Homo sapiens: one gene and its partners. The protein of the gene in region 3 interacts with the protein of the main gene of each other region in a pairwise test. Each region holds a gene or a part of one and is shown on either strand. Other genes may lie near its edges.

Region 1 (3,532 bases), on a different chromosome or scaffold from region 3:
GAGGGATCTCAGGCTCTCGGGAGGCCACAGTGTCCTCCTCCCACCCTATGGTCCCCGACAGTCGCCCCTCTACACCCGGACAGCCCTTCCCCAGCAGCAGCCGTTCAGCCCCTGCCCTATTACCAGTGGGAAAGAGACTTGGAGGCTGGCAGATCCAAGTTCAAATCCCTTCTCCAACACTCCAACAGGCCTGCGGGCAAGCCACATCCCCTCCTCATCTGTCAGGTGGGCATGGGGCAGTACTCAGCCCATGGCAGTGCTGGGAAGTGGCATGAGCAAGGGACTTCAGGACTCATTAGCACTGGGGCTCTGATGTGGCCGTTTCACTAGCACGCATGGTTGCAGGAGTGTTCTGGGGGCTCTGGCCAACCAGTCCTCTGAGCTGCTTCCAGAGTTTCAGGCTGCATCAGGCAAGTTTCCGTTGTCATAACAACCTGCTGGCTCTCAGGCGCCTGGGCCTGAGGCTCTAAGGATGCTGCCGGCTACCGTGGGCTCACGGCCTGGACCTGCTCACCTACCAGCAGCCTGGACAACCTCTCCTGGAGGGGCTTCCGGCTCCTGGCACCGCAGCCCCTGCCTCTTGACTCATCTGATTCAGTCCTGCTTCCCAAGCCCATCCTGCGTGCCAAGCTCCGTGCTGTGCATGCGTCATCACCCCAAATCCCCACCCGCCTCTGTGCATCAGGACAGCCAAAGGCTCTATTTTCTGCTAAAAGAAGCAGGGTCTCAGAAAGGTGCAGTGACCCGTCGGAGGTCACATGGCTTGGGCATGTCAGGCCCAGGACAGAACCCCAAAGGTCAGGCACTCACACCCGTTTCCTCTCCAGATGCCCAAGCCCCTCTCCTGCTGCCTGGCACACACTGCCCCTGTGGTTGGAAAGCTGGCCCCTGCCAGCTCGGACAGAAGGGGCATGAGGCTGCCCACTGTCTGCTGGGATTGGAGCAGGAAGACCAGGCCACAGGATGTTGGGAGGACCCTGCCGAGTGGGCAGGCATGCCGGGCTTCTGCTGACAGTGCCAAACGTCACCTCGCTTCATTCTTACAGCAGGCCTGAAAGCTAGGAGCAGCTACCCCGCTTCACGGAGGAGGAAACTGGGCTCTGAGGGGTCTCGGGTAAACCCCCATGGTGCGGGCATGCGCCAGGGGCCGCAGCATAGGCCAGCAGAGGTGTGGTCACCTTCACCAACCTTCCCCTCGTCCCAGCACAGAAGTTTATTTTTTTTCCTTTCTTTCTTTTTTCTCTTTTGTTTTTGAGACAGGTCTCGCTCTGCTGCCAGGCTAGAGTGCAGTGGCGCGATCTCGGCTCACTGCAACCTCTGACTCCCCGGTTTAAGCGATTCTCCTGCCTCAGCCTCCCAAGTAGCTGGGATTACAGGCACGCACCACCATGCCCAGCTAATTTTTGTATTTTTAGTAGAGATGGGGTTTCTCCATGTTGGCCGGGATGGTCTTGATCTCCTGACCTCGTGATCGGCCCACCTCGGCCTCCCAAAGTGCTGGGATTACAGGCGTGAGCCACCGCGCCCAGTCAGAAGTGTCTATTATTATTCCCCTTTTGCAGTTGAGGACACTGAGGCTCTGGGAATCCGCACACTTGTGCTCCTAATCACCTGCCCCGCTGTCCCTGGATTTTCCACGCTGGCCTCAGAATCTCCAAGGGCAGCCATGGTCTTGATGTCTCCCAGTCCCCAGCACCCAACACAGGTGCCCCAGTTCTCTTCCTCAGATAGGACATGTACACAGCTGTCCAGGTCTTCCAGGGAGATCCCTGGGCAAGGACGCCCCTGTAGGAACCCCGGCTGGCCGCTGACCTTTCGAAGAGGTCTCACTGCTTCTTCCTTATTTCCTGAGTGGGTCTTCCAGGGCAAAGCGGGCCTGGAAAGGCCAAATAGCTGTTAGTTTGGGTTGGCTTTTCTCCCACCAAAGTCAAGGTGGGGTTAAGTCTCCCTGTCTGATCAGCCCCCTCCTGACCCTGCGCCTGCGTAGTATATGTCTCTGAAGCAGAGGGACATGGGGGTCTGTGAGCAAAACACTGGCATCTGGGAAATCAAGGCATGAGTGACCTGAAGCTTCACCCATTCAACCAACCGTCCTTCACCATCCACCCCTGTGACCGCTCACCCATTTACAGGTGCCATCCACGCACCAACACATCCTTCTGTCTCTGTGTCCCTCACCCGCTGATGGGCACTCATCTGTTCACTGGTCCTCTCACTCCCGTCTCCATCTGTCCGCCTGCCCATCCCTCCATGTCTGTCCATTCCTCTGTTACTTGTGTCTCGTATCCATGCATCCATTGCTTTGTATCCATTTGTGCACTGAGCTGCCTTCTCAGGCCTCTATCCACACATCCGTCAATATACACTCATCACCTATCCATGCACTCACTCTTCCAGTGTCCATTCATTCCTCTGTCCATCATTCATGGACATGTATTCAAGTATTCATCCACCCATCCCAACATCCAGGCACTACCTGTATCCATTTATGTATCCATTCCTTCATCCATCCATCCAAAGATCCTTCCATCCATTCATCTACCAATCTTGCCTTGTGTATCAGAAGTCTCCCTCCCTCCACCCATGTATCATCCATTGATATTTTGTTCTATCAATCCAGTCCTGTATCCATATCAACTTTTCCATCTGTCCACCCACCCATCCCTATCTTGCTACTTACATCCATCAACCTCTCCTCCCGTCCATCTATCCCTCTTTCTCTCTTTCTTTCTTTCTTTTCTTTTTTTCTTTCTTTCTCTCTCTCTCTTTCGTTTTTCTTCCTTTTTTTTTTTTTTTTTGATGGAGTCTCACTCTGTTGCCCAGGGGCTGGAGTGTAGTGGCACGATCTCGGCTCACTGCAACCTCACCTCTGCCTCCTGGGTTCAAGCAATTCTCCTGTCTCAGCCTCCCAAATGGCTGGAACTACAGGTGCACACCACCACACCCACCTAATTTTTTTTGTATTTTTATAGAGACGGGGTTTCACCATATTGGTCAGGCTGGTCTTGAACTCCTGACCTCAGGTGGTCCACTCACCTTGGCCTCCCAAAGTGCTGGGATTACAGGCGTGAGCCGCTGCGCCCAGCCTATCCCTCTAGGTTTCTACCCATCCATCCGCTGCTCTATCCTGCTAGTGCTTCCCTTCCATACAGTATCATCCACCCATGCATCCCCTTCAGCATGCCTGCGTTGCTTCTCCACCTCATGCACCTCTTAATCCCAGCATGCACCCACTGTGGGATGACCAGGCTTCCATGTCTGGCTTCCCCAGGCAAAGCCCAGGCCTGACCCATCTCCATCCCTGACTTGGGCTCAGGGCTTGCTGATTGAACCAATGACTGCAATTCCCCTGCTTGGCTCAGAGCTGGGCCCTGGCTGATCCCCACCCCAGGCAGACCACAGAGGCTGCTGTACTGTCCTCCAGACTCAAGGCCTGCTGAGGCAAGGGCCACTTTTGAGTTCCCTTCCTGGCTAGAGGGGAGAGAAGAGCCCCAGCAGCTCCTGACTCCTGCCGTACTGGCCAAGGTCCATG
Region 2 (3,532 bases), on a different chromosome or scaffold from region 3:
CTTTGAAAGACACTCAAGAAAGTGAAACATATATATATTGAATAGAAAAAAGTATGTTAAAGCTTATATCTGATAATAGGTTATATCCAGAATATACAAATAATTTTTACAACTCCCTATCAAAAACATAAACAATAAGAAACAGGGGGAAATGTGAACAGGCAATTCACCAAGGAAAATACATGGATGGCAAATACACACACAAAAAAGACGCTCAATGCCATTAATCATGAGGAAAATGCAAATTAAAACCACAATGAAGGCTGGGAACAGTGGCTCAGGCCTGTAATCCCAGCAATTTGGGAGGCCGAGGCAGACGGACCACTTAAGTCCAGGAGTTCGAGACCATCCTGGCCAACATGGTGAAACCCCATCTTTACTAAAAATACAAAAATTAGCCAGGCGTGATGGCGTGCTCCTGTAATCCCAGCTACTTGGGGGGCTGAGGCAGGAGAATCAGTTGAACCCGGGAGGCGGAGGTTGCAATGAGCTGAGATTACGCCACTGCAGTCCAGCCTGGGTGACAGAGAGAGACTCCGTCCAAAACACACACACACATACACACACACACACAGACACACACACAGAGATCCCACTGGAAGGACTAAGATTAAACAGGGGGCTGGAAGCTGGGAGAGGACATGGTGCATCTGGGGCTCTCACACTTTGTTGGTGGGACTGCAAGATCACACAGCCACTCCAAGGAGACAGTGGGGTCCTTTCTTGCACAGCTGAACATGCATCCACCATGGGAACCTGCAACCGACTCCTACATGTCTACCCAAGAGACATGGGAGGATTAACACTGGAACATTCCCAGCAGGTTTATTCTTAACCGTCCCAAACTGAAAAAGACCCAAATGTCTGTGAACTGGTGAGCAGATACCCGAGTTGAAGTGTATCCATGCAACAGCATATACTACTCAACCATGAAAAGGAACGGGCGACTAATGCATGCTCCAACGGGGGTGACTCAAAACCTTCGCTCGGTAAGAAATCCAGGCAGAAGAGACCATGCACTGCACCATTCCACCCCTAACATTTCTAGAAAAGGCAAAATAACAGTGGCAGGAATGAAATCAGGGATTGTCATCAGGACGGGAAGAAGGGATTGGCTGGGGTTGGGCGACACAAGGGGCTTTTGTGGTGGCAGAAATGTCCTCTATCCTGATTGTGGGGGTGGCACATGGCTGGGTGCCCTTGTCAAGACCTGTTGAATTGTACCCTTCAATCGGTGACATTTATTGCATATAAATTAGCCTCAATAAAGTTAATTTAAAAGTACCTGCGTACTCTTCCGCGCAAATGTGTTGGAACAGACACTTAGTGCCATAAACAGTCACAGCAAGGATCTGCCGCTGAGCACTGAGGGGTAATGGGAGGTTCTGGGGCAAGAAGAGCTTTTGAGGACTCCATAAGGACAGAGGCGGGGACGGTGGGAAGGAGTGGGCAGTGTGGGTGGAAGGCAGGGGCTTGGGGACAGCGAGGGGGAGGCCTGCAGCAGGGGCGCGGCTCTGGAGAACAAGGGAGCAGGGGCTGTGGGGAGCGGTCGCTGCAGGGTTGGACGGATGCTAGGCCAAGGTGGGGCCAGCGGCACGGGTTCCCAGGTGAGTGGGGCTGGGACCGGATGGGAGGGAGTGACCTCCCCATCACGTGGAGGCTGAGTTGATGACGATGGGAAGAGCAGCGGGGGCCAAAAAGGGAGGGACGGCCCGGCACGCCGTGCACTCGATGCCCAACGGGCCCCCATTTAAGGTAAGCATTTGTTTAACTGCACCGTGACACACAGTATTTTCTGAATTTAAGTTGAACTCAGTTCAACAAATGTTTATGAACTGTCTACGGAGGAGAGGCACTGAAGTGCAGCGATGACTCAACGCGTACTTGAGCTTCAAAAGGCTGCCAGGTAAACAAGTAATTATATAACGGTTCCATGCTAGCAGTCATCACGAGATGCACCCCAGAAAGTGAGTAACTCTTGGTGAACAGAAGGCCAGCACTGGGGCGCCTGTGTGATGGATCCCTGTCGGCAGAAGGAGTTGGGAGGGGGCCCAGAGAGAAGGGGTCCAGAGGGATGGGGGTCCCAGAAGGAGGGGTCCCAAAGGGAGGGGGTCCAGAGGGAGGGTGGTCCCAGAGGGAGGAGTCCCGGAGGGAGGGGGGCCCAGAGGGTGGGGTCCCTGAGAGAAGGAGGCCCAGAGGGAACCAGATACACAGGCCACAGGGCAGGAAGTTCCCGGCAGAGCTATGAGAAGCTGGCCTACTCCGTCCTGTTCATAAGACACTACTTTAATTTCCTTTCATTTATTCTCATGTCAGAATAAGTCAATGAACCAAAATTGATAAATTCCATGTCTCTTAGGATGGTGTTTTGCACGTGTTAGGTATAAACAATGTACAATTCTAGATAATGACAAATTTAATGTCACTGTGGTTAAGAATCAGGATTCTCCATAAAAACGGTGGTTGTCAGGTTCACCTGTATGCCAGCCACAGTCATTGAAAATGATTCGGCCTTCCCCAAGCCACTGTTTTCACAGGAAAAACTGTGTGAATTGTTTTAAGGAAACTGTTTTGGTGACAGATTGGCGTGGGTATCACCTCAACGTGTAAAGAATCCTGTTCACAACTTGCTCTATCATCTCAGATCTCAGGCAGCAGTCACCAGCTCCTTGGAGAAACAGGCTGCAGATTTTCTATTAAGAAAATGTTGATGTGAAGACACTAAGAAGTTTTTTAGTAGATATTTCTGTTCCTTCTTTAATGAACTGAGAATAAGACACCCTGTTATCTACGAGTGGCAGATGAGAGATGCAGGGAAATGTGCTGAGCCCTGTGTCCAGTTCTTGGTGAACCAGTGAACCTACCCTTGCAAAGCAGCCACCTGCAACACATCTCACACTGTCTCTTTGAGGTTCAGCACTTCCTATCTCACACGTGGTCCCTATGACCACCATTCTCACCAGATCTCACTTTGATGTCATTAAATCACATGTAAAATACATTCAGCTCAACTGATTCTTAAAGTGTAATTTTCTTGTCTTTGGAATTTAGATATTTCCCAAACAAGTGGGCAGAGGAATACTTCTAGAGCTTCTGTAGGACACACTGTTCTTTGGAGGAGGAGTTTCAGGGGCTCTAAGAAAAAGTCATCTAATGACACACTTTAGAAATGTCATTTGACTCAATTCGGTTTTGCAGTTAAGAGGCTTCTTTTCCAATATTCAGCTGCCTCAAGTAAAGTGTCGATTGTTGCTGTCTCAGTAACTCATTGTCACCCCCCACCTGAATGTTAGCCTCTCACAGGACCCGGGGTACCCTGTAGGGCGGGCACACTATGGCATGACACCAAATGAGAGACTCATCATGTCTCATCCCCTGAGTATCTCCTTCACCAGGAAGGCATATCTCATTGACTGAGCTTTATCACATGTTCTGAAGACAAGAGAAAGCAGAATTTCTTGATTCCTGTTTGGCACCTCTCTACTCTTTTTTAAAAAAAGCATTTCAAAAATATTCAGGGAATGTTGCAGTG
Region 3 (2,363 bases):
ACCCTAGCCCTAGAGTCTGTAGATGTTCCCTGAGTCCTCCTCACCTAAGTAAGGTCAATGCCCCCATGGACTGCCCCTTAACTTTGTTCTCTCACATTGGCAAAGGTCTCCTCCTCTGCCTTGTGATTTCCAGACTCTCTTCCACTGTGACCCAGGCCTGGCACAAACCCCCTGGGCAGCAGTGCAACCTGGAGTGATGGGGCCAGTGAGGGTGGCCAGAGAGACTCAGCCGGCAGCTATGCAGTCCAACTGACCCTCGCCGAGGCCACTGGCTCCCACGGCCATTGGTGAGTGAGTTACAGGGAATTCTTCTGCAGGGCAGAGGCCAAGGCTGCGAGTGGGGCCTCCTCTGCAGCAAACAGTGAACTGTGTCACCGAGACCCCAGGAACTGGGGTCCCATGGCCCAGCCCCTCTCTATGGAGAAGACTGTGCTGCTGGGGCCAGGCAGAGGGCAGAGGCCCAGGGTGGGAGAGGAAGGGATGAGAGGGCAGCTTCTTACCCTCTTGGGTGTGAATGACCCTTGAGGGCAGCAGAGAAAGGGAAAGCAAGGGTCAGAGACAGGCCAGGTGTGACATCCAGGAGAAGCCAGGGCTCTGTCCTGCACAACAGCATGCCTGAGGAGGGACAAGGAGTCAGGTATGAAGATTAAATTGCTCCTCTTGAAGTTTGGTTTAGTTCTTAAAGCTAGGGGTGGGAATCCTATCGCCCTGCCCAAGGAGCACCTTTCAGAGGTGGTGGAGGGAGGGGTGAAAGGGGTGTTGAAGGGGAAGAGGAGGGATGCTGTGGAAGGATACTGGGCCCACCCTGGAGCTTCCTTGGCACCTGAGGGAGAATGAGGCAGTGATGGGGCTGCAGAGGCCTATGGGGCGCTCTGCCCCAAGACTGTCAGGCTGGTGTGAGTGAGCTCTCCCCTCTCACACCTGGCCCGGGATTCTATCAGGATATTGATCTTATAGGCTGTGATTTCCTCTGGCCAAGAATCCTTTCTCTGGAAGGCCCTGCAGGAAAAACCTCTCCTCTCCACTCTACATGTAGCTGGCAATACATGGATGGGAATCCCAGGAAGAGGGAGAGGAATTTAGCAGGGACCCGCAAACTAAGTCTGCGGCCCCAATTTCACAGACGAGCTGAGCCAAGGTCACGCCCAACGAACCTGGTTTCTTCCCCTCCTTCAAACGAGGCCTAAAAACAAGGACCCGAGACAGGGCACTTCAGCCTCGATGTAGGGAATGGAGCGAGAGCTCTAGAAAAGGCGGATTCCTTCAGGGTGTCCCCACTCCTTGACACCAACACACAACAGTGGTTACTGCCACTGTTGGAGGGAAGAAGGGCTGGCACCCAGCAGCACCACCATATAAAGTCTCAGGAAAGTGTGTAACTCTACCGATGGAACAGGACATGAAACAGAATCACATGTGTTAGAAGGGGTAGAGACTGCAGCTCCAGGGTTGAGTGGGTGGGATCTGGGGTCAAGTCCTGGATCTACCTCTCACCATTTGGGAGAATAGGGCAAATGTATTTATTTTGGTGGGAGTAAAGGGGATAGGATGTTTCTTAATCTCTTTAAGCCTCAGCTTCTTCATCTTGCGTTGTTGGAGGATTAAATGAGATTTAAATGAGTGCAAAGTTCAATAAATCATACACATCAATTCTCCAACAGCATACACATTTCAGGCATTTTAGGAGCCCCATCTCATGAAGGAAATCCATACTACTGTGGCAGATGGGGGTGGGGAGGCACTTTCCACTCAACACCTCAGTTCAACTCTGGCCAGTGGCACCTGCCGGGGTGGCTTGGGGCTTGCCACCTGGAGGCCCAGCTCCAGGGACACCCTTCACAGAATATCCTGTGGGAACGGCACCCCCCTCCAAGCACAACAGGGCCCCTTGAGTTTTCAGGTATCAAGACAGGAGACGACACGACATGAGCAGTGGGCTACCATTATTAAGCACTTAGTGTTTGCCCAGCATGGTACAACAATCTGGTAGGTGGGTAGTTTATCTCCAATGACACATGGGGACAAGGGGATAAGTTATCTTGCCCAAAGTCACACAGCCAGTGAGTGTTGGAAGCTGGATTCAAACCCAGACGTCAGATTCCAGAGTCCATTCTCTTCAAGGCTGGACTTGACCCCACCCTGACCCAGGGCCCAGATTTGAGGGCTCTCTCTGAGCCCACCTGACTTTCCTCCAGGGTCAAGGCTGGCTGGGTCCCCTGGAGCCCTCTCCTCCACCCCCACACCCAGAGGACAGGCTGCATCAGGGGTCTTCCCACCCCCACCCCATACCAAGGCTGCTGGAGAGGAGCCTGGCCCAAGGTGGCGCTGCCCCTCTTGGACCTCCAAGAATGCCGCATGGAGCA

The links. The genes of interacting proteins can lie anywhere in the genome.
Region 1: the proteins of QSOX1 (region 3) and BEGAIN interact in a two-hybrid assay, tested with the Homo sapiens proteins (one large-scale study listed by BioGRID and IntAct).
Region 2: the proteins of QSOX1 (region 3) and CCR6 interact in a two-hybrid assay, tested with the Homo sapiens proteins (one large-scale study listed by BioGRID and IntAct).

The regions. Positions count from the first base shown.
Region 1 is NC_000014.9:100,580,912-100,584,443, forward strand, and holds part of BEGAIN (brain-enriched guanylate kinase-associated protein), read right to left. Parts: intron 1-3,532. UniProt on the Homo sapiens protein: May sustain the structure of the postsynaptic density (PSD).
Region 2 is NC_000006.12:167,129,570-167,133,101, reverse strand, and holds part of CCR6 (C-C chemokine receptor type 6), read right to left. Parts: intron 1-3,532. UniProt on the Homo sapiens protein: Receptor for the C-C type chemokine CCL20. Binds to CCL20 and subsequently transduces a signal by increasing the intracellular calcium ion levels.
Region 3 is NC_000001.11:180,199,859-180,202,221, reverse strand, and holds part of QSOX1 (sulfhydryl oxidase 1 isoform a precursor), read right to left. Parts: 3' UTR 1-2,363. UniProt on the Homo sapiens protein: Catalyzes the oxidation of sulfhydryl groups in peptide and protein thiols to disulfides with the reduction of oxygen to hydrogen peroxide. Plays a role in disulfide bond formation in a variety of extracellular proteins.